Homo sapiens: one gene and its partners. The protein of the gene in region 1 interacts with the protein of each later gene in a pairwise test. Each region holds a gene or a part of one and is shown in the gene's direction. Other genes may lie near its edges.

What was found.
Region 2: the proteins of SNRNP48 (region 1) and ENKD1 interact in binary tests that used the Homo sapiens proteins (3 or more experiments, as listed by UniProt).
Region 3: the proteins of SNRNP48 (region 1) and CDCA7L interact in binary tests that used the Homo sapiens proteins (3 or more experiments, as listed by UniProt).

The regions. Positions count from the first base shown.
Region 1 is NC_000006.12:7,585,487-7,593,488, forward strand, and holds the start of SNRNP48 (U11/U12 small nuclear ribonucleoprotein 48 kDa protein), read left to right. Parts: upstream 1-4,711; 5' UTR 4,712-4,771; coding exon 4,772-4,927; intron 4,928-8,002. Other genes in the region: DSP (desmoplakin), read left to right, coding at 1-392. UniProt on the Homo sapiens protein: Likely involved in U12-type 5' splice site recognition.
Region 2 is NC_000016.10:67,663,727-67,671,092, reverse strand, and holds the start of ENKD1 (enkurin domain-containing protein 1), read left to right. Parts: upstream 1-4,342; 5' UTR 4,343-4,650; coding exon 4,651-4,735; intron 4,736-4,827; coding exon 4,828-5,022; intron 5,023-5,924; coding exon 5,925-6,097; intron 6,098-7,030; coding exon 7,031-7,156; intron 7,157-7,272; coding exon 7,273-7,366. Other genes in the region: uncharacterized protein C16orf86, read right to left, coding at 2,493-2,920, 2,995-3,592. UniProt on the Homo sapiens protein: Microtubule-binding protein which regulates microtubule organization and stability. Promotes the stability of astral microtubules and facilitates the proper orientation of the mitotic spindle.
Region 3 is NC_000007.14:21,942,876-21,950,317, reverse strand, and holds the start of CDCA7L (cell division cycle-associated 7-like protein), read left to right. Parts: upstream 1-4,418; 5' UTR 4,419-4,513; coding exon 4,514-4,537; intron 4,538-7,442. UniProt on the Homo sapiens protein: Plays a role in transcriptional regulation as a repressor that inhibits monoamine oxidase A (MAOA) activity and gene expression by binding to the promoter.

The DNA.
Region 1 (8,002 bases):
ATGGGAGGATAAGCACCGAAGAAGCCATCCGGAAGGGGTTCATAGATGGCCGCGCCGCACAGAGGCTGCAAGACACCAGCAGCTATGCCAAAATCCTGACCTGCCCCAAAACCAAATTAAAAATATCCTATAAGGATGCCATAAATCGCTCCATGGTAGAAGATATCACTGGGCTGCGCCTTCTGGAAGCCGCCTCCGTGTCGTCCAAGGGCTTACCCAGCCCTTACAACATGTCTTCGGCTCCGGGGTCCCGCTCCGGCTCCCGCTCGGGATCTCGCTCCGGATCTCGCTCCGGGTCCCGCAGTGGGTCCCGGAGAGGAAGCTTTGACGCCACAGGGAATTCTTCCTACTCTTATTCCTACTCATTTAGCAGTAGTTCTATTGGGCACTAGTAGTCAGTTGGGAGTGGTTGCTATACCTTGACTTCATTTATATGAATTTCCACTTTATTAAATAATAGAAAAGAAAATCCCGGTGCTTGCAGTAGAGTGATAGGACATTCTATGCTTACAGAAAATATAGCCATGATTGAAATCAAATAGTAAAGGCTGTTCTGGCTTTTTATCTTCTTAGCTCATCTTAAATAAGCAGTACACTTGGATGCAGTGCGTCTGAAGTGCTAATCAGTTGTAACAATAGCACAAATCGAACTTAGGATTTGTTTCTTCTCTTCTGTGTTTCGATTTTTGATCAATTCTTTAATTTTGGAAGCCTATAATACAGTTTTCTATTCTTGGAGATAAAAATTAAATGGATCACTGATATTTTAGTCATTCTGCTTCTCATCTAAATATTTCCATATTCTGTATTAGGAGAAAATTACCCTCCCAGCACCAGCCCCCCTCTCAAACCCCCAACCCAAAACCAAGCATTTTGGAATGAGTCTCCTTTAGTTTCAGAGTGTGGATTGTATAACCCATATACTCTTCGATGTACTTGTTTGGTTTGGTATTAATTTGACTGTGCATGACAGCGGCAATCTTTTCTTTGGTCAAAGTTTTCTGTTTATTTTGCTTGTCATATTCGATGTACTTTAAGGTGTCTTTATGAAGTTTGCTATTCTGGCAATAAACTTTTAGACTTTTGAAGTGTTTGTGTTTTAATTTAATATGTTTATAAGCATGTATAAACATTTAGCATATTTTTATCATAGGTCTAAAAATATTTGTTTACTAAATACCTGTGAAGAAATACCATTAAAAAACTATTTGGTTCTGAATTCTTACTAGAAGGTGGTCTTTTGAAGTTAGTCCTTTCGGTACTTCTCAGATGCCTGTCATGTACCCGATGGAGTCCTTGGAAAGAAGGCCTGTGTAAAGAGGCCAGCCTGGAGGTCAATAACCTGTTCTAGTTTATTCTGGACATTGAGTACCAAGTAGCATTGGCAAAAGTCATCATCATAGCATTGAAAAAACATGAAGTTGCTAAGATGCTTTTTGGGTATCCTCAAAATAGATAGTGTTTCACTTTGTCCCGTAAGAGGAAAGAATTGTCCTGGAACCCATGAAAATGATTTCTGAAGAGTTCTTGGCTCTCTGTTGAAGGACAAGGAAGTATAAGCCTATTCCTTTGGATCAAAGAGAAACTACTGAAATTCACACATTTGTCATTAGATTAACATGACTTCACTGAATACCCACCATGTCTAGTATTGGGTTAGGTACTATGAAGACTGAGTAGAATTTACAAGCCCCCGACAACAAAGCATTGGCAATATGGGTGGGGACAGAAACAGATAAAGCAATCAGTGGGACAACTTTCAAATGTCAGCAGTATATATTAATACAAATTTTATAGTACAGATAGAAAATAGGAAAACATGCTAATTGTATAGAACAAAAATCAAGATTAGATTAATTATTGGGGGCTTTTGGTACTTAGGGTGAAAGTCACCTCCATTCTCATTGCATGGGCTATTTTTCCTCCACAGCACTCTTTTCTTCCTTATTTCACCTCTTCTTCCTTACTCCCTCTCCTAATTTGGAGGAGTTGAAATTAATTTTATGCATTAAATACTGAGTTCGCGTGCCATGCATTGTGCCAGAAGCCATGGAGTCTGTGCTAGAAATACATGGTGAAAAAGAGCCCTCATAATCCAAAAGGAAGAAGAAAATGTGGTAAATGCTGTATTGGGAAAAATGAAGGAAATTCCTTATGCTAGAGCTGGGAGACTATATTAGTCACCTCACCCTGCCATAACAAGATGCCACAGACTGTGAGCGGCTTAAACGGAAGTGTATTTTCTCACAGTTCTGGAAGCTAAAAGTACAAGCTCAAGATGCAGGCAGGGCTGGTTTCTAGTGAAACCTGGCTCATGGGTGGCTATCAGTCTTATCTGATTAGAGTACCCACCCCTCCTTTATGACCTCATTTAACTTTAATTACCTCTTAGGGCTCTATCTCCTTATACAGTCACATTGTGGGTTGGTACTTCAACATAGGCATTTTTGAGGGACTCAATCCAATCCATAACAGAGGCCTAGCCTAGAACAGGAGTCTGGAGACCACTCCAGGAAAGTGATATCAAAACAGATCAGCAGCATCAGTGTAGAGCAGTTCCTCGGGCTGAAACAGTAACTAGAGAGTACAGTCAATTGACAAATCTTTCCTACTCCCTCCAGGCTTGTGCCAATGTTGTCATGAAGCTCTGAGATGACATGGGGCTGTATCCTGAAGAGAGGATATGTTTGACGTGGGCTAAGTTTTAATTTGGTTCACATATACAAACAGGGAAATATACACTAGAACTTTTTATCAGGAGTCATGTCACATCAGAAATAGTCTCACATTTTTCCAGACCAACCAGCTAACTATGGAAATGCAAATAAAAAGTAAGGATACCGGGCTGGGCGCGGTGGCTCACGTCTGTAATCCCAGCACTTTGGGAGGCTGAGGCGAGCAGATCACAAGGTCAGGAGTTCGAGACCAGCCTGGCCAATATGGTGAAACCCCATCTCTATTAAAAATAGAAAAATTAGCAGGGTGTGGTGGCATGTGCCTGTAGTCCCAGCTACTCGGGAGGCTGTGGCAGAAGAATTGCTTGAACCCGGGAGATGGAGGTTGCAGTGAGCTGAGATTGCGCCACTGCACTCCAGCCTGGGTGGCAGAGCCAGACTCCGTCTCAAAAAAAAAAAAAAAAAGATACTGTAGGCAGAGTATGAATACATTAACTTCATACTCCTCTCTTACCAGCTTCTAGCCACTTCTGTATTTTATGGTGCTGCCTATTTATAGTCTTATGACTATTTTTTTAAGTGAGAACCGTGCTATTTGCCTTTAGAAATAATTGTTCACCAAAAAATTCCCCCACAGTTCCTTCACATGGGTAAACAAAGTGCAAAAGGAAACCAAGGTTTGACACTTGGGCTTGAAAAAATTTTAAAAAGTAATATAAAATGGGTTAGATTCTAGGAGTTGAAACCATTTGGGGAAACTACAAGGGCTAATTCCAGGTGTTGGGTAGGAAATGTACAAAGTTAAGCTTGTGTTATCAAAGCAAGAAAGCATTCAAGGACTAATAGGGATACATGAAAGACACAGATGGCTTAATGTGGCTTCCACTGGCCACATTTGGGACAATTTGAGCATCAACAAGAATTATGATGTTAAAGGAGTATATTATATTGAATTAAAAAAAAACCTTAAATCAATAACTTTAAAAACACCTTGATTCCCATAGTGAAGCAAACACTAAAATGGAGGTGTGGAAAGAATGCCAGTTAATAAACATAAAAGGCATGATACTATTGCGGAATCACTTATAACTCCTAATGTAACAACAGATTCAGTGAAGGACTGTATCAAGGAGTTGGGGAACAGGTTATTCTTATGGACTCAAGGTATAATCCACAGATTGCTTACCAATTCCTAAGAGGAAAATGTACTATTAGAATGAAGAGATGTAGCCACCACCTTTACCAAGTGATCAAATTTAGCATTACTAATATAACTGAGTTATGCGTCCCCGTGAGTTGGCAACATCTCTTAGGTAGTATTGCAAAAGTGCTCAAACTGAATCTAATCATGAGGGAAACAAAATCTGACAAATCCAGAATGAGAGAGATTCTACAAGACAACTGGCCTAGGCTCATCACAACATGTAATGATTTAATAATTTAAAAAGGAGGGTGAAGGAGGCTGATCTGGATTAAAAGAGACAATAACTAATTATAGCTTATGAGTTGAAAAAATAAAACTGCTATAGAAATAATTTTGGGGACAATGGGGAAATTTGAATATGAACTGTATAATAAATGATTTTATGGACTTACTAATTTTCTTAGGTTTGATCATGTATTGCGGTTACACAGGAAAATGTTCTTATTCTTAGAACATGCATGCTAACATATTTGGGGGTGAAAAATCTGCAACTTACTTTCAAAGAATTCAGCAAAAATCATTGGGTGGGGCTGTGAATGTGGAGAGAAGAGACGGAGAGAAATCAAACCTGGCAAAATGTTAACAATGAGCTGAAGGACGGCTAAACGAAAGCTCATTGTACTATTTTTAAAACTTTTCTGTAGCTATAAGCCGTTTTTTCTGAGGAAGTCGAGGAGGGCGAATATCTTTCTGGAAAGGCCAGAGCAAATGCACGCAAGAGCTGAGAAAAGATTGGAAAACGCCTCTCAAAATAACAGTCCCGCCCTTCCCGGGACTCTTCCCTATAGGCTGTTCAAGTCACGTGGCGACTGTGGCCCCGCCCACAGCTCCCAGAGGCCTGCGCGTGCGGTCTGCAGTTCGGCCGCTTCCTCTTGGCGGGTGGGCTGCAGCTATGGAGGGCGAGCCTCCACCTGTGGAGGAGCGGCGGCGGCTGCAGGAGGAGCTGAACGAGTTCGTGGAGAGCGGCTGCCGGACGTTGGAGGAGGTGACCGCGTCCCTGGGCTGGGACCTAGATAGTCTGGATCCCGGGGAAGAGGAGGCGGCGGAGGTGAGGAGCGCGGCCGCGGGGCCCTTTCGGGGACTATCGGCCCGGGGTCTTCTCTGGAAGAAGGGAGATCCGCACTGGCAGCCGCGGAGGGAAGGGCGAGGAGTCCTCGTCCGTGTGCAGAGCCGCGATGGGCGCCTGGGACCCGAGGGGCGCCGGGGGCCCTGGAGCAACCCTGACGTCCCTGGGTTCCGGGCTGGGGCGCGCGAGGAACTCCCGAAGGCTCCACATCGACCTCCAGTGCGGCGCTCCTCCCGCGCAACTTCGAGTTTAAAGAAAACCGGGGGCCGGGCGCGGTGGCGCACGCCTGTAATCCTAGCACTTTGAGAGGCCAAGGCGGGAGGATCCCTTGAGCCCAGGAGTTCCAGACTAGCCTGGGCAACATGGTGAAACCTCTTCTCTACCAAAAGTACAAAAATTAGCCGGGTGTGGTGGTGTGAGCCTGTGGCCCCAGCTATTTGGGAGGCTGGGGTGGAAGGATAGCTTGAGCCCAGGAGGTCGAGGCTGCAGTGAGCCGAGATCGCTCCACTGCATTCCAGCCTGGGCGACAGAGCAAGACCCTGTCTCAAAAAACAAACAAACAAAATCCAGGAAGGTGTGTTGAGTGAGGAGGGAATGGCAGATTTGGTATTTATTTAGAAAATAAGTGAACGTGTCTCAGAGCGCTGCAGAGGGATTGGCGGTTTGCATTGTCATCTGTCATACGGATTCCGCAGTTGCACCAGATTCGGTGTCAGGAGAGCTGGGAGTTTGCCAGTTCGCCTTTCTGTGCCTTAAAATTGGACACTTCTGACTGGGACAGCACCAATTCTAGGATTATTAAAGGTTGTCACCAAGAGGTGGTAACTGGCAACTCCTGTGGACATTAGAATTGCTTTTTTAAAAATGTAGGCAAGTGTATTTAGAGTGAACATTCGTGATTTTTGTTTTTTTGTGGGGTATTTTCGGTGGAATGAGAGGAAGGGAAGTGCTCCAATGTGGGGTAATTCATTATCTTTACTATTACTTCTGGGTTTACCATGCTGTGATAATTTCTCCTGGGTTTAAGTTACATGACTGATTCCTCAGAGGCATTTAAAATATATTTGATTTCTGTATATACCATTCATTGTTTATTGTATTAAAAGCACAGAGGAAATTAAAAAATCTTTAATATTCATTTAGAGGGGTATTTGAAGCTGGGAATTCCACTGAGTGGGGCTTACCAGACCCTTCCATACATTGTTTACTCAGCATTGCGGTAACATTGGATTCCTTGTATTAACGTTTAAATAGCACTTTGTTTGCCACTTACATTACTTCATTTAATACTCAAAATAACCCTATGAGGTAGGTATCTTTGGCCACATTTTATAGACGAGGAAAGGAACACAGAAGTGATAATTTGTCGAAGGATACACTGCTAGTAAATGGCAGTTAGGATTTCCGCCGGTGTTTTAGTACTGAAATTTAGTGAACAACAGTCCTAGTTGTCATCTGTTCCTAGTTGTCACCTAGTTCCTAGTCCTCACAGAGCTAGTCCTAGTTGTCACCTAGTTCCTAGTCCTAGTTGTCACCTAGTTCCTAGTCCTCACAGAGCTTATTGTCTGGTGGTGATGAGGGGTAATACGGATAACTGAACCATTATATTATCATGGGTCTGTGATGGGTGGGGTTGGAATTGCTATAGTACAGTTTATTGTAGGCGGTGGTGGACAAAGTGGTGGTCAGCAAAGGCTTCCTGGACAAAGTGAATTCTAAGCTGATAAATAAAAGTGAGTTGAATTGGCTAGGGGGTTGGCGGGTGCGGGGAAGAAGCATCAACAGCATGTGTAGAAGTTCAGAGACAGGGAGTGACCAGATCGGGAAGCCTCAAGTAGTTAAGGATAGCTAGAGCATAGAGTGTAGAGTTAGAGTAGAATGGTGATGGTGGGTAGAGGTCAGATCTTAAAGGTCCTTGTCAGCCATATTAGAAAGTCTAGATTTTTTTTTTTTTTTTTAATGAAGGCAGTGGGGAGGTATGGAATTATTTTAAGCCAGGGCATATTATAATCACATTTACCTTTTAATAAAATAATAGCATACATTTATTGAATGCTTGCTATGTACCAGGCCCTATTTGAATTCCTTTATGTGTATAAACTTTGGTATACTTTTTTAAATCTTCACAATCACTTTGTGAGAGAGGTCCTGCTATTATTTTTATTTTATATAATAGAAAATGAGGCAAAGAGAGATTAAGTACCTCACCCAGTTTCATGCAGCCAGTAAGTGGCAGAGATGGAATTCAAACCAGCTACAGGATGGAAACTGAAGGGGAGGGCAGCAAGACTGGAAGCAGAGAGAGAGAGCAAGAGTGAGAGAGAGCGAGCGAGCGTAGTCAGGAGATGGTGTTGTATTCCAGGAGAGAGTTGATGATACCCTGAGTTGGGGAAGTGGCAGTGGGGATGGAGGATGTTGAGGGATTTTCAGAAATATTTAGGAGTTAAATTGGCAGGACTAGGTGATTGATTGGACGTGGGTGATGAGGGAGAAGTAGTTTCTTGCTTGAGCAAGGGGGACCTTTCACTGAAATAGAAAAGTACAAAAGGAATAGATTTGAGGGTTGGGAGATGATGAATATAATTAATTTATTTTTGTTTGTGTTGAACTTTTAGTGTCTTTAATATACGGTACTGGAGAGAAACAAGGTTTAAAGATCTAAATTTTGGGAGTCCTCACTGTATAGTGAGAGTTGTAGCTTTGAGATCTTTCAGTAAGCATATATTAAACAGCAAAAGGTCAGTGGTTATATTAATACTTACATGAAAACCAACATCTAAAGGGGGACAAATAGAGCAAGGAAGACAGATATTTAGGATATTTAGAGGAGACCAAGTAGAAGAAGCCAGAGAGGTAGAAAGAACATGAGGGGTGTGTCAGAATCACAGATGGACAATTGGAGTGTGACCTTCCAAGAGTTCAGATAAAACAAGACAGTGACATGTTTTTGGCTTTAGTAACAAGGTTATTAGTGACCTATTGACTGGTTTCAGTGGGGTGATGGTGGCAATGAGTGAGGAATCGTTATAGGTGAGGTGAGGTTGTTTAGACAGTGAG
Region 2 (7,366 bases), on another chromosome or scaffold:
GACACAGACCACCACGCCCAGCTACACGTCTCCCTAAATAATGTAGCATTTCCTCTTTACAGCGAGCTTCTAGGAGCAGTAGGGACTTGGTCCTTTCTGCAGCTCCTACTACCCACCCTGCTTAGACAAGTCCATTGGGTAATAGGCCTCAGGAATTGCAGACTAGTTCTCCCACGATTTCTAATTCCTGCCTCACCTGTGAGAAGACAGGACCAGCTCTTCCTTATCAGTGCTGGCCTCGTTCACGCTTCCAGCCCTGGAGACCGCACAAAGATACAGAGGCCTTCTTGGGTCCGGCCTTAGCCAGAGAGCCCCCAGGTCGGCAGATCCTGCACAACTCAAGACAGGGATTCCTAGATCCCAGGGTGTGGTCTCATGCAAGGCCACTTCTCTCCAGGCCTCTGCCATCCCAAACATAAAGCAAGGAGGTTAAGCTCAATTATCTTGGCTGGGTGTTTTGGCTCATGCCTGTAATCCTAGCACTTTGGGGGGTCAAGGAGGGAGGATTGCTTGAGGTCAGGAGTTTGAGACCAAGCTGAGCAACACAGACCCTATCTCCACAAAAAAAATTTTTGGCCGGGCACGGTGGCTCACATTTGTAATCCTTGAGTCCGGGAGGCAGAGGTTGCAGTGAGCCAAGATTGTGCCACTGCACTCCAGCCTGGGCAACAGAGCGAGATGCTGTCTCAAAGAAAAAAAAAAGTCCTGACCCCCATGGCTTGTCATGGGGCCAGTGAGCACCCAAGTGACCCTGTCAAAGGAGGGAGCAGGCTGGGATGATGCCAGAAAGGGGACCCTGCTTTTCCCACCTGAACCTGCCCACCCTACTCCCTCCAGTGACCTTGCCAGGCCATATTCCAGGGAACCTACATATTAGACTGTGGCCTCGGGATGGCCTCAGCATTTCAGATTCTGGCCTGTCCCTCTCTGCAGCTTCCTCCACCCCTCACTTCAGTCTCATCACCTTGGTGCCTTTTAAGGGGCCCTCTGGCTAGGTCGATGTGATGCAATGAGATGTGCCCTTAGGGAGCTCACGGTCTAATCCCGATGACAGTTATAACCCACATGATAGCAATGCGCAGGGGCTGCAATGCAGGGCAACATGGGGTGCTGTCTGGCTCCCCAGGAAGCAGAATCCCAAGTTTTCAAAGGTGTGCGTGCACTAGCCAGGGGGAGAGGTGGGAATAAAGGCATTTTAGGCAGAGAAAGCCCCACATGCACAGAGTGAAGGGAGGAAAAGGTGTAACTGCTCAGGGAATTACCGGAAGCCACTGAATTCTAAGGTAGCTGGGGCAAGAGGAGGGGAATCCCAAGGGGGAGTGACACCATCAGGGGCTCAGGTGTGTGTGTCACAGGGCCACTGGATGGATCCGTGGGCCAAGGGATGACAGGCAGGGTGACCAGTGAGGCTGTCACCTGGAGATGACAGTGGTCCAGGCGACGGTGCTGACTGTGGGGTCCGAGAGGTTCTCAGCCTGAAAGGGTAGGATCACTGGCCTCAATGTCTGCTTAGCTTGTAGGAATCAGGGAGCAAAGAACAGGATGGGGTCTGGGGTGACACCCAAGATTCTAGCTTAAACAATTGTGCAGATGAGATACAGGAGGAAAAGCCAGTTGGAGGAAGGGGAAATTTCCATGAACTTAAAATTCCCTGTGTCTGTTTGTGGTGTCCAAGGAACACACAGGAGGCCCAGGATGTGCAGTTTCCAAAATGGCCAACACTGGCTGGCTCTTCCCAGAGATCCTTGCCGGTTGGACACAGCTGTCATCCAGTGGCTTGGCCTCAGGGTCCCAGATGCACTTACTGCCCCTGTCCACCCCTGCCTGCCAGGAAAACATCACTGATGCCCTGTCACCTGTGACCAGAGGCTACTCCACAGACAAGGTCCGGTCCAGCTATGGTCTGGCAATGAGTAGGAAACATCCCAAAGCTGTCACTGTTGTGACAGGCAAAAGAACTCTGTGCTACCTCCTAGGAGGATCCCAAGTTTTGATCCCCTCAAGGTGAGACCAAATGCAGGCCCTTCCCCAGGAGACAGAAGAGCAGGGCCAAACACCTGCTTCCCATGACCCAACAGACCCTTTCTTTTCTCTGCCCCAAGTTCCTCCTTCTCACTTCCCTCTTCATCACCCAGTTAGCTGCCTGACCCTCAGATTCACCTAAACACACAGCACCAGGTCCACCCTGATTCAGTGAGGCATGGGGTGGCACAAAGGAATCTGTCATTGTCAAAGTCTCAGGTGATGCAGATGACCATTCAGGCCTCAAACCCTGCACTGTTGAGTCCTCCATCCTCTTACCCATTTCAGGCAACCTATCTGGGGAATCACAAAGTCTTTGAAAAAGAAAAATATTTATTTTCAGCAAGACCAAAGTCCCAAGTGGGGGCAGGTGCCAAATTTGCCCCCGCCACCAGAGGGCCTAGGCCCACAGGAAGCCTGAAGCCAAATTCAGGCGTGGAAGGAGGGGAGCCACCAGTGGGGCGGGACAGTCACTTGTACTGAGGAGAGAGCGGGGGGACAAGTGGAGCAGTGCAGACACTCAGCATCTTGTCGATGTCCACCTGGGTTGACTTATCCACCTCGGCCTTGTGGTCACTCACCCCCAAGCTGGGCAAGCCCCCAGGCTCCTCTCCAGCCTCCTCTCCGAGGGGAGCCAGGGCATGGGTGGGGGTCACTAGTGGACTGGGACAGGGCAAAGCGAGGCCTGGGCCCAGCTCACCTGCCAAGGGCAGCAAGGCCTGCAGTTGCTCCACACCTCCCTCCTCGGGAACCGGGGCCAGCTCTGCCTCTGCCTCCACCTCAGCCTCCCCGTCCCCCTTCCCTGCCTGGTTCAGCTCAGGGTTGCAATAGTTGACGTACTGGTACAGCGGCCGCAGGCGCTGGGCCTTTCCTGCAAAGACCCAGGGCAGGGCAGAGGCTAGAGCGCCAGGTTGTGCCATGTCGGGCCCCACAGGCAGGGGGAGAAGGAACAGTCCAGGGACTGCCACTCACGCTCCAGCCTCAATGTCTCTAAGGGTGCAGACACCATGCTGGCCACAGCGTGGAGCACGGGAGCCCCCAGGCTCTTGCGCTTCTTGGCTTTTTTGTGCTGTTTGGCAGATGGTGAGGGCTCACTCTGGCTGTCCTCTGGCTCCTCCTCCTGCAGCGGCAGCTTGGGTGGCAGCTCAGCTTCAGCCTTAAGATGGGCACGAAGGCCCGGGAGGCTGAGAGACCTGAGCCAGGGACAAGAGACTTGAGCCAGGCTCCAGCCCTGGCTCCCATTCCCTGGCCCAGGGAATAGCCCAGCCTGCCCACAGCCCCAGGGCTCGACGCCTGTCCCGTTCCTGGTCAATGAGACCCCAGGCCCAAGAGGCTTAGAGGCCAGTGAGCCCAGGCCCCTACAAGCCCTGAAGCTCCCACTCTCCTGCTGCTCCCTACACGGGGGCTCTTGAGGAACGGGAGGAGAGTGATGGTAGTGGCTGGGGACGAGAATCCTCCCTGCAGGAGTGCAGGATTTAGGAATCCTACTGTGGTGTGTGCCCCAACCCCGGGGCTGCAGCTCCTTCCCCCCGAGAGCCCCCTCACTTGACAGGCTTTCTCTTTGGACCATGACGGGGCCTCACAATGGAGACCACGGGCCTGGGGCCTCTCTCCTCTAGCGCCCCGGCATGCGGCTTGGGCCGCTCCTCCCCCAGCTTGGGTCCTTCCTCCTGGAGCTCCGACTCCGAAGCTGCGCCTGCTGGGCGCTGGTCTTCACTCTGGGTTCCGCGGGCCTCATGGGCAGGCACCAGGAACTGGTCTCCCGCCACTGGACACTAGAGATGACACACAGGCCATCGGTCACCATGGCCGGGCAAAGGACATAGGGATCCGTCACTGAACACCTAACGTTAGACACCGAAACGGGAATAAGGACACCAGCCTGTGCCCCTCCCCGCCTGGAGGGCCCAGCCTGGCAGTTAGCGGGTCGGGGCGCTCAGTTCCACCTCTCAGAGCGCTGCGGCCCTGTGTTTGAAGGTTAAACAGCCTGACGGTCACCTCGGAGGTCTGAGCGCTGCCGGGCTCCTCCGTGAGCTGTCCCTGCCCCACGACCGTCGCCTCCTGGACCCCCGGCCGCCTCTCCGCCCCTGCCGAGGCCATGGCTGCGCAGGCTGAGTGCGTCCTCGACAGCTGCTTGGGGCGGGCCCCAAGGGGCTGGATGGTGGCCCCGCGCTGACCCCGGAGACCGGCCAGCAAGCGAGGGCAGAGCTGGGAAGAGAAACCGGCGACCGCGGAGCCCACCCTCGGCCGAAACTACAAGCCCCAGGACGCTTTGCGCCGGGGTCAGTGGGCCCTGACCCCGGGGACGGAAGCCACGGTTGCCCGGCAACAACAAGTCCCGTCGGGTGGCAGCGGCTGGCGGCAAAACCTCTCGAGTGAGCCCCTGCCCGAGTGCCGCGGGGGAGAGGCCGCGAGCGGGACCGAGAAGTGGGCTGGGAGCAGAGGTCGCGGAGGTGGCGAGCGAGGCCGGGGCCCAGGCGGGGACCGGCAGGGGCCCGGGAGTGGCGGGCACGCCAGGGTCAGGGTGCCGGGCGAGGGAGGGGGCCCGGGGTTGGGGAAGGGGGCCCGGGGAGGGAGGTAAACAGCCCTGCAGGCCTCGGGGCACCGTTGCTGGGCGGCGCCGGCGGCATGTGCGAGGGCCCGTCCCGCATCTCGGGGCCCATCCCCCCAGACCCGACGCTCTGTCCTGACAACTACAGGCGGCCGACCTCGGGTGAGTCCGGGGGCTTGGCGGTGGTGCGAGGCTCAGGGGTCGGCCCTGGCTCCACCTCTGAGCCCCGGACTCCGCCCGGCTCCGCCCCACAGCTCAAGGGCGCCTCGAGGGAAACGCGCTGAAGCTGGACTTGCTGACTTCCGACCGGGCCCTGGACACCACCGCTCCCCGTGGCCCCTGCATCGGTCCCGGTGCCGGAGAGATCCTGGAGCGCGGCCAGCGCGGCGTCGGGGACGTGCTGTTGCAACTCGAGGGGATCTCCCTAGGTCCTGGGGCCTCTCTCAAGAGTAAGTCCCAGGAATGGAAGAAGGGACAGAGAGGCAGTGCGGGGTGGAAAGAGATCAAAAGCAGCTGCTCTTTCCACCCTGACGTGGGCCCAGGCTTTGCATCTCTTGAGTCTCAGTTTCCCCAACTATAAAAGGGGGAGAAATATGCTACCTTCTCGAAGGAGGTGAACTGAATGAGGTAGTTCCCACGAAGCCCTAGCTCTGCTTTATGCATTTGTTACCCATTAAATTTGTTTGTTGAGTGCCTACTGTGTGCCAGGCCATATAGATGCTAGAACACAGGGCTGAAGATAAGCATGAGCCATCACTGAGTCAAGGTGGGATACAAAGATCAAGAGATGAATGTCATATATGAGATGATCTATGGTGTACTTCAATGGTGTACTTCACTATAATAATGGAGGAAATCACCTGGGCGCAGTGGCTCACTCCTGGAATCCCAGCACTTTGGGAGGCCCAGGCGGGCAGATCACTTGAGTCCAGGAGTTGAAGACCAGCCTGGCCAACATGGTGAAACCCCATCTCTACAAAAAATACAAAAATCAGGCTGGCATGGTGGAGTGTGTCTGTAATCCCAGCTACTCGGCAGGCTGAGGTAGCCGGGGAGGTTGAGGCTACAGTGAGCTATGATCATGCCACTGTACTCCAGCCTGGGTGACAGAGTGAGACCCTGTCTCAAATAATAATAATAATAATAATAATGGAGAAAATCATCCTGTGATACTTACTACATGAGGAAGGGAACACGGTGATGAGGGAGAGTGTGTGTAGGGTCTAAGGTAGTTGGAGAGGTCAGGGAGCTCTTTCTGTAGGAGGCAGGGGGCAGGCCTGTGTGTGAACTAGTGGAAGTTGGACTGTGTGGGCCCCATGTAGGGCAGAACCTGGGGGCATCTTTTCTCCAGGGAAGGACCCTAAGGACCATGAGAAGGAGAACCTGAGGCGGATCAGGGAGATTCAGAAGCGCTTCAGAGAACAGGAGCGCAGCCGGGAGCAGGGCCAGCCCAGGCCCCTGAAAGCTCTGTGGCGCTCACCCAAGTACGACAAGGTGGAGTCCCGGGTCAAGGCCCAGCTCCAGGTACCTGCTTCAGGGAGCCAGAAGTATTATCCATTTTGTTGGCCAACAGGCAACTGTACCCTGATCTGAGTTCTGGGGTGGGAGGGAAGTCACAGAGGTAACAGAGGACTAAGAGACCCTGGCTCTGCTGCAGGGCGAGGCTGGGGGGCTTCTCAGAAGTAGTGATGGTGGGGCTGATCCTGAGGGCAAGTAGCAATTAGTCAAAGGGACAGCAGAAGAGAACATTCCCAAAAGATGGAACCTCACAGACCACAGGGCACGCAGCAGTGGAGATGCTAGGTACAGTTCACTGTGAGGAAAGAAGGGCGTGAAGTTAGGCCAAGAAGTCAGCTGGACCCACGTCAGGGGCCACAAAAGCCACTTTTCAGCCCTTATTTCTGAGGACAGTGGGAAGGGCAGGGGTATGGTGGGGGGCTCTGTCTCAGGGACTCAGTAGGAGGAGCAGGAGTGAGAGGAAAGGCAAGGTCACACAAATGTGTTGTAGCTGAAGCATCTGTGGGGTTCCCAGGGGGTGGGAGTGTGTCCAGGAAGCAGATGGAAATTCAGGCCTGGATCTCAGGAGTGAGACCTAGGAGTTATTGACGATCAGGTTGAGGACAACGAGACCAAGGAATTGACCGCCTGGATTTGAGGACTTGGAGGCCAGCTGTTAGGAGCCTTGCAGGGCTAGAGCCAGGAAGCTTGGCTAGGAAGGAGGAAAGAGAGTGGTAGCTGGGCCAGTACTGAGGTGGAAGGAGAGATGGTTTGTTGTTTTCTTAAAAATCTGACATACTCACACATTTGTGTGCTGATGAGGACAAGTGTCCCTTGAAGAGGGAAGAGGGCCCGAGGGACATGGATGCAAAGGTCAGAAGGGCCAAGATGGCCAGGGTCTTGCAGCTTGAGCCCCAGACCTCAGCCTGCCTGCTCTCTCTGCTGTGCCCTGCCCTCCAGGAGCCTGGCCCTGCCTCTGGGACAGAGTCTGCCCACTTCCTGCGGGCGCACTCCCGCTGCGGCCCTGGCCTCCCACCACCCCATGTATCTAGTCCCCAGCCAACCCCACCAGGTCCCGAAGCTAAGGTGAGAGGATGTATGGGGGCTAGATGGTGGTTGGGCAGGGCTCCTGGTGTGGGGGGGGTGTTCAGGGACACAACATAATGCTGTCTGCCCCCACCCACGCTTGCTGTGTCCTGCAGGAGCCAGGCCTGGGGGTGGACTTCATTCGTCACAATGCACGAGCTGCCAAGAGAGCCCCCCGGAGGCATTCCTGCTCACTGCAGGTCCTGGCAC
Region 3 (7,442 bases), on another chromosome or scaffold:
AGGTTAATTCAGCACAGGGCTTAGAGCATAGTGAGTACTCTTTAAATTAGCTGCTATTCTTGATATCACTATTACTATTGACTTTTTGAAAGACCACAGGCATTAAAGTTTCATCATGATGTGTATTTTTCTGCATCTGATATATGGACAGATCTGATTTTTGATTGTCCAGGTTATTTTGTCATAAGCCATTAGGGTGATTTTCATCACAGTGTTGTGACAACATCATCTTGACATACCAAGTCAGGAAGATGGAATACCGGGTTGTAATAATAATAAAGAAAAACGTTCCAGAAACGCACCCAGTCAGTGTTAGATGATGATTTTACAAAAGACTCAGTTCTAGATCTTTGATTCTGTAGCAACTTGGAAATTTTATATCTGAATGTTTCAAATTTAGGGAGGTCTCCCCATTCTAGGGTAGGTGTTATCTGATCACAATGAGATGGAAGTTTCAAGAGACCAAGAGCTAGAGAACAACCAGTGATGTTTTCCTGTTTAACGGTCACTTTATTTATTCACGACCACATACAATGCCAAGTGGTACTCAGATACTGTTACCAGCTAGGTCCTAGTCTGTTCTGCCCTGAACAGTAAATCAATTAGTGTGACATGGGTTTTGCAAAAGAAAAAAAAGATTTATTCACAAGGGCATGGAGTGAGGAGGTGGGAGAATAGCTCTGAAGTACGCCTCCCTGAAGATAAGGCTTAGGGATATTTATGGGTTAGGGAAATGGGGTGGTCTGAGTTATGGGGAAATGTAATCGGCACTGGGAAAAAAACGAAGTAACAGGCTCATTCTGCACAAATGTAGCCAGAGTTCATGGCATTATATAGGACATATGTACAGAAAAATGGCAGTGTTAGCATGATCTCAGGGTGGAGTTTTTGACCCTCTGACATCAAAAGGCCACCTCTCAGGCACTTGAAGAGTCAGTGGCCTCAACCAGTTTGAACTGGACAGAAGCTGGCCTAAGTTTCTGAGAAAAAAAAAAAATGGAAGCAACAGTTACCACGGTGACCTATGAACGTTATCTATAAAGTAGCCAGTGAAGTTAAGTCTCAGTGTTCAGTGGTGCGGTGTTCAGCTACTGCAGCCTTCAACTTCGTGGGAAAAGGAAACAACACCAAGAGGCAAATGACCAAAAGCAAGCAGGGGAGGCAGACCTAATGAAATTACCTCTCAGTTTCTATAGACTCATGCTGCTTCCAGCTCTCTGCAGAAGGCAGATTCTCTGGTGAGTTGTCCAGAGCACCAAACCAGCACGATTTTCTGTTATGTGGGGAGGACTAGGGAGTTTGCCCACAACTAAGCTCTGTGGGGACGGCAGAGATACTACTTCAGATAGAGGAGAGATGTTTGGGCTCCTTTTACAAAGCAAAAATCGTGGGCCAGGGTTGACATCCAATTACAGCTCTCTCACATCATTTAATGAGGTTCAATAATGGCTTTGTAGGGGAGTAAAACTTCATCTCCATCCTTTTGGGTCCTGGCTGGGTCTGAGGATTAAACTGACATAAAATAGATTAACAAGAGAAAAGCATATAGATTTGTCTAATCGAAGTTTTATGTGGCATGGGTGCCTTTTTAAGGAAATGAAGACCCCAGGATGAAGTTTGAGTTGGACATTTATATAGTGAATTGCACAGAGTAGTAAAACTGAAAATGCGATGAGGCAAAGGGGCATGGGCTAGTGTAGTTAATTGGGTGGAGAAGTGACTGAGAAGATAAGGGTTAGTTTAACAAGGTTTGTTTGTACAGATTTCCCTCAGCTTCAATTTCCTGTCTTTGATAAGAATGTGGCTTTCCTTCTTGTGTAGGGAGGACAGCTTTCATAGGGGAATTTTATCTCCTGCTTTTAAGAAACAACATTAAGTTCAGAGTGATCTTCTCCTACCTGCTTTTTTTTTTTTTAAGTGCTTTTAACTAAAAATAGTGAATATGCCAGAGCAGCATATTTTAGTGTGGCATTATTAACTCCTTTGGCTTCTAATCACAAATTTCTTACCTTGTTCAAGGTACTGGGGACCAAGTTTTTACTCTCTCATGGAAACATTTAAAAAGCAATCAAGCATGGATTTCTAGACAGACTTCTTAAAAGAAGTTGCAAACATTATGTCTTCTTTTTCTGTGTTGCAATATGTATACTGTTGCATCTGGAAGGGACACTCATTCTTGCAGTGCCATGATGAAACCCAGTGCTCACATCCCGTGAACCCTATCAGTAATAATTATTAGAAAGTATTACTGCAGTGCCATGTTTAAATCCTCTGGTTCCTTAGAGATTTTCCCAAAGCCTGACCAAAACAAAACAAAACAAAACAAAACAAAACACACCACTATATAATCAATTACTAAATACCATCAAACGTGTACAGGCTTTGCTAAGCACAGGAAGAAAATTTAGGGGTTGTCATCTGAAGACTTAGGGTTAGTTATGGCAAATTTCTAAACAGAAAGGTTCAACAGCTTACAGGTTTCCTGATACAGAAGTAGCTAGTCTAGGCTGCTTCAAGTGTTTTGCAAAATCTGACCTGCTTCAAATTTGTGCTCCCTTTTCCAAAATTGATTTGATTTAACCTACAATGAAAAGAAGTGCAAACAAGATCAGCAGTTCATGAGGAAGCAACTATCTAAAAAAAAAAAAAGAGGAAGAAGAGCTCTGATTGAATTAATTTTCACTCTAAGCTTCCTGGCAGCCAAAGGGAAAAAATACAGAAAAATGGAAAGAATGTTGGATCTGGAGGCATAAGGAATGGTTTTCAGTTTGGCAGTCTGCTGCTGTCACTTAGTGGCAGGGTGGCAGGGATCTCTTAATGTATTTTCTTAGATTCTGTTTCCTTATTTTAAAAATGTGGACAATAAGGATCTGGAAGGATATTGAGAGGATTCAAGGAGATACTGCATGTGAAGGAAAACTCTAAAGCATAATAAAAATGAAGTGGCCATAATGAATAAATAACATTATCCAATAAAAACAAAACATTTTAAGTCACACAATGTTGTATTGGTTTTACTACCACCAGGAAGTGAGAACACTGAGGGCTGGAACATGAAAGCACATAACACATGTTGTTTGCTGAACTAACCAAAGGAAGGAAGGAAACCTTTTCCATGTTTTCTCTTCAAGCTTGAGTAAATGTTTGGCAAATTTCATTCACTCGTTCAATAAAGAAAAGATGAACGTCAGATCCTAAGCAGCTGAGAGGGGCTGCAGAAGGTCCTATGCGTACAGGATGCTCTACTGTAAACCTATGACCACGGTTCTAAATAGGTGTGCAACACTGTCCAGCAAACCTGCTGTGATTTCAGGACAACTTCATTTACCATTCTCCCCACTCTCTACTTCAACTCTCCCACAATTTCCACAAACTTAATTCCTCACTCTTCATATCTGAACTCTAAGAAGTATTCCCTGACCTCTATCAGATTGTCTTCCTATTTCACACCACCATTAATACCACTTGCCTTTTTTCTCATGGCATCATCGCTCCAAATTTACATTTATTTGCATCATCATTACATTTGTCATTGATAGTGGTATCAAATTAATATTAATTATAAATCTAATTTATAAAATTTACATCGTTATTACACTTATTTGCATCATTATTGTATTTATTTAGAATAATGCAATTAGGTTGGTAACTGGCTCTCAGGCTGTAAACTCCAACAGAGCAGGGGCCTGTTTTTGTTCACCCTTCTGTTCCTAGGACTAGCCCAGTGCCTGATGCTTAGTAGATGCCGGGGTCAATTCTGTTAAATTAGTCAGCATTCCTGACCTCTACAAACTCTTTGTCTGGTGGGTGTGGAGGCCTACTGTGTAATGGCCGTCTAAAGTTTCAGGCGGGTTTGCATCTGTCCACCTGGGCCTTGGTAAAGAAACCTGGGTTGCCTGTTCTGCAAAGTGAACCCTGTAGCAAATGTTTTGGGAGACAGAATCTTCCCAAAGAGAACCCTGCCCCGTTACAACAACAAAACAAAACAAGCCCCAAAGCCGCCCTACAATATTTGCCTGGATCAGAGACAGGGGTTGCAGCAGAAGCTCGCGCCCCAGGGCATGACCTGGAATAAACCCTGCCAAGTATCCAGCGCGCGTGCCAGCTGGAGGCTGCGCCGGGACAGCCCCCTCATTTCTCCCGCGCTAAACCCCGCCGGACGGCTCCACTCCCTCCCTCTGCTGCAGGGGGGAGCCCGGCGCCCTAACACTGGTAATTGCTCTTGCCGCGCCCAACTGCAGCCCCCTCTCGCGCCGCCTGCGAAGACAAGGTCAGTGGCCGCGAAGTTGGAACGTGATCGGAGCCACGAGGCCCAGTGAGGCGGCACCGAGGGGGCAGCGCAACGCGCTCCCCCTGTCCAGGGCGTCAAGTGCGCCCCTCCCGGGGCCCGCCTGTGCTCCGGGCGGAGCGCGCTAGCTGCTCGGGCGCGGGGCGTTCTTGGTGCGCCGGGCCGTGGTGAGTCCGGGCTCCCGTGGCCGCGTGCTGGGAGGAGACTGGAGCCCGGTTAGGAAGAATGGAGTTGGCGACTCGCTACCAGGTGAGGGTCCGGCCGCCCGCCGCCGTCCGGACGCACCCACAGTTTGACTTCCCTTTGCCACCCGGTCCTGCTGGCCTTGGGCTGGAAACGTGGCCCTTGGCTGCGGCACTGGGGATCTGGCGCGCCCAGCCGGTTGAGTGCCGGAGTGGGCGCGCCCTGCAGGTGTGCGCAGTGGGTCACGTTTGTGCTACGCGGACCACAGAGGCCGGTCGCCCCAGCACACAACCGCGCTCAGCCTGGCGCTCTGCTCAGTCTCGGGTGGCCGCCGGGGGTGCAGGCGGGGAGCTAGCGGGGCGCAGCGCCTGCGTTTGCAGCCCTCGTGAGACGGGGGAGGGGCTTTTTTTGTGCACTCCCCACACTTTCTCCGGGAATTGGCACAGAGATCAGGAAGCTTAAGAAAGTTGTAATTTTTTTTTTTTAACAGTCGATCGCCAGACCAGTCCAACTTGGATAATGGAGTTTAAAAATAATAACTTTAGTGTTTATTCTAGAACTTTTGTAAACGTTTTCAAGGAATTAGTAACCATTTGGGGGAAATGGTAACGTCATTGGGCCGAGTTAAACAAGCTGCAAGATCCCAAATCATATGCACAGCACGACCCCAATTACGCGTTAAGGGCCTAACTCGTCTTTAAAACTCATTAGCAAACACTTGAGTAAGTTCCCCCAAACGTTTCAGTGAGTAGTGGGAATGTGAACGTGACTTCAGTTTTCTCTTTTTACTTCTTAAAAGAGCTTTTCTCTACGTTATCGTAATGGAGATACATGTTTACTTAGAAGTAAGCAATAAAAACATTTTTCATAAGAACTAAAAATACAACCTTTAAAAAGGGAAACAAGCAGCCACGCCTCTGCTTGTGGGAGCACGGAGATGCTTTGTGCGAGGATTGTTTTTTTTTTTTTTTCCACTTGTTTTATTGAGAGTCGCGAGACTCACTGCTTCCACCTTGCTTCCGACTGGTGTTTACTTTCCTCCACCTGCGTGCCTGGCCCGGGAGAAGGGGAGGCGGGGCCGCCAGCGTTGGAAGGCGCAGAGTGCCCGGCGCCCGAGCCCAAACCGCTGTCACCTGCCCGAGTCTGGCGGCAAAGACTGAGCCACTAACGGTAGCTTTGGCCTTTTAGTAATTTCTGAAGCCTTCCTGAAAATGGTCGCTTGAGAAAAATCTGTTGTTGATGTTTCTGAGAATATTTTTAAAATGCCTCCTGTGAGATAAACTATTAAAAGCAAGGGAAACAGTAAAGCCTACGGAATGAGACAGGGTTCGATTTTTTATTTTTTGCCACTGGCTTTTACCGTGTATTAGCATCCTTTTTTTTTTTTTTTTTTTTTTGGAGACGGAGTTTCGCTCTTGTCCGGGGTGGAGTGTAATGGCGCGACCTCGGCTCACTGCAACCTTCGCCTCCCGGGTTCAAGCAATTTTCCTGCCTCAGCGTCCCGAGTAGCTGGGATTACAGGCGCCCGCCACCACGCCTGTCTAATTTTTTGTATTTTTTTTTTTTTTTTAGTAGAGACAGGGTTTCACAATGTTGTCCAGTCTGGTCTTGAACTGCTGACCTCAGGTGATCCACCTGCCTCGGCCTCCCAAAGTGCTGGGATTACAGGCGTGAGCCACCACTTCCGGCTGGCGTCCTAACCTTCTAGGAGTTTCTGTTGCTACAGGACTAAAAACAAAAAACAAACCCTCTGGATGGAGATTTGAGCTCCTTGTGAGTTTAGTCAGAAAATGTATCTGGAATTTATCACTCCGGAGCTCCTTGTGAATGTAATCAGAAAATGTTTCTGGAATGTGTCACTCCTGTTGTTAAGCTGGAGAGTTCTTTGCACTTCCACTACTGATATTCATAATTCATGCTTAGGAAACTCAGAAGTCCCAGAATGTGTAGTTGGAAGTGAGCGTTTACTGCCACACAATGAGGCTAATTTTTGGTAGTTCTAAAATGTTAAATAAACTATTTATCATGTAGGGGTTACCCACAAATTATATCCGATCCATTATGCACCAATTAAGGCAAATTACTATATGTAAGATGATCAGGGTTTTTTTTTTTTTCCTTTTCTGAAGACCTAATTGGCAGTGCAAATCAAAGATGTGTGATGGTTTTTCCAGTGGAAATGTTCCTGTTCATCGTAATTTAAATGTGCACAGATTATAGTCTCTAAATTAGTGGAGAGTGGTTCTGTGGGGTGGGCAGGTGACTGCGGATAAGAACACTTAATGAACATTTCAGGCACAGCAAGATGTTAAATTCGTGTGGTTCCACCCTGTCCCCCAGCCTTATGAATAAAGCAATGTGATGAACCACCTGAAGTGGCATTACTGCACATCAAATGTCGCTCAGCTCAGTGTGCAGTGGGTTTTCATCTCACACATTGGAGTAAGTATAATTTCTATCGCTTGGAAAGCGCAGAGCTAAGTGTTTCAGCAAAGCAGCTTAGGCCTAATGTTATGAGTAAGAAGCAAACAAGGAGACTCATTTACTCTGAACTACTTTCGAGTCTGCTTTCCTGCCATCCCACCAGTGTGTTGGATTTGATGTCCTCTGACAGTGATTACGCTTCCCCCAGGCTGTAGTCTTGTCGTGCTGACCACTGTGTCTTTGTGCTTTTATATAAAATGACAGAAATAGCTCGTAAAGGCAAGGGTGTGATCCCTGACTAAGAGCTGTCAACAGTGCAGCTCATGGGAGCTCCAGCTTGCTGCAGCTCCGTAGGAGAGAAACTGGTAGGCACTGAATGTCAGTGTTCTCCTCGTACTCTGTTCTAGCTCCAGAGTACAGGATGGCCCATTTGAGAAGGAAATGATGCTAAATGTTCTTGTAAATAGGCAGGAGCACGCTGTTGAAGGGGTAAAGGGGTATTTTTCTGGTATTGGTCTCTTAGCTGCAAAGTGCTCCCATCTGATCC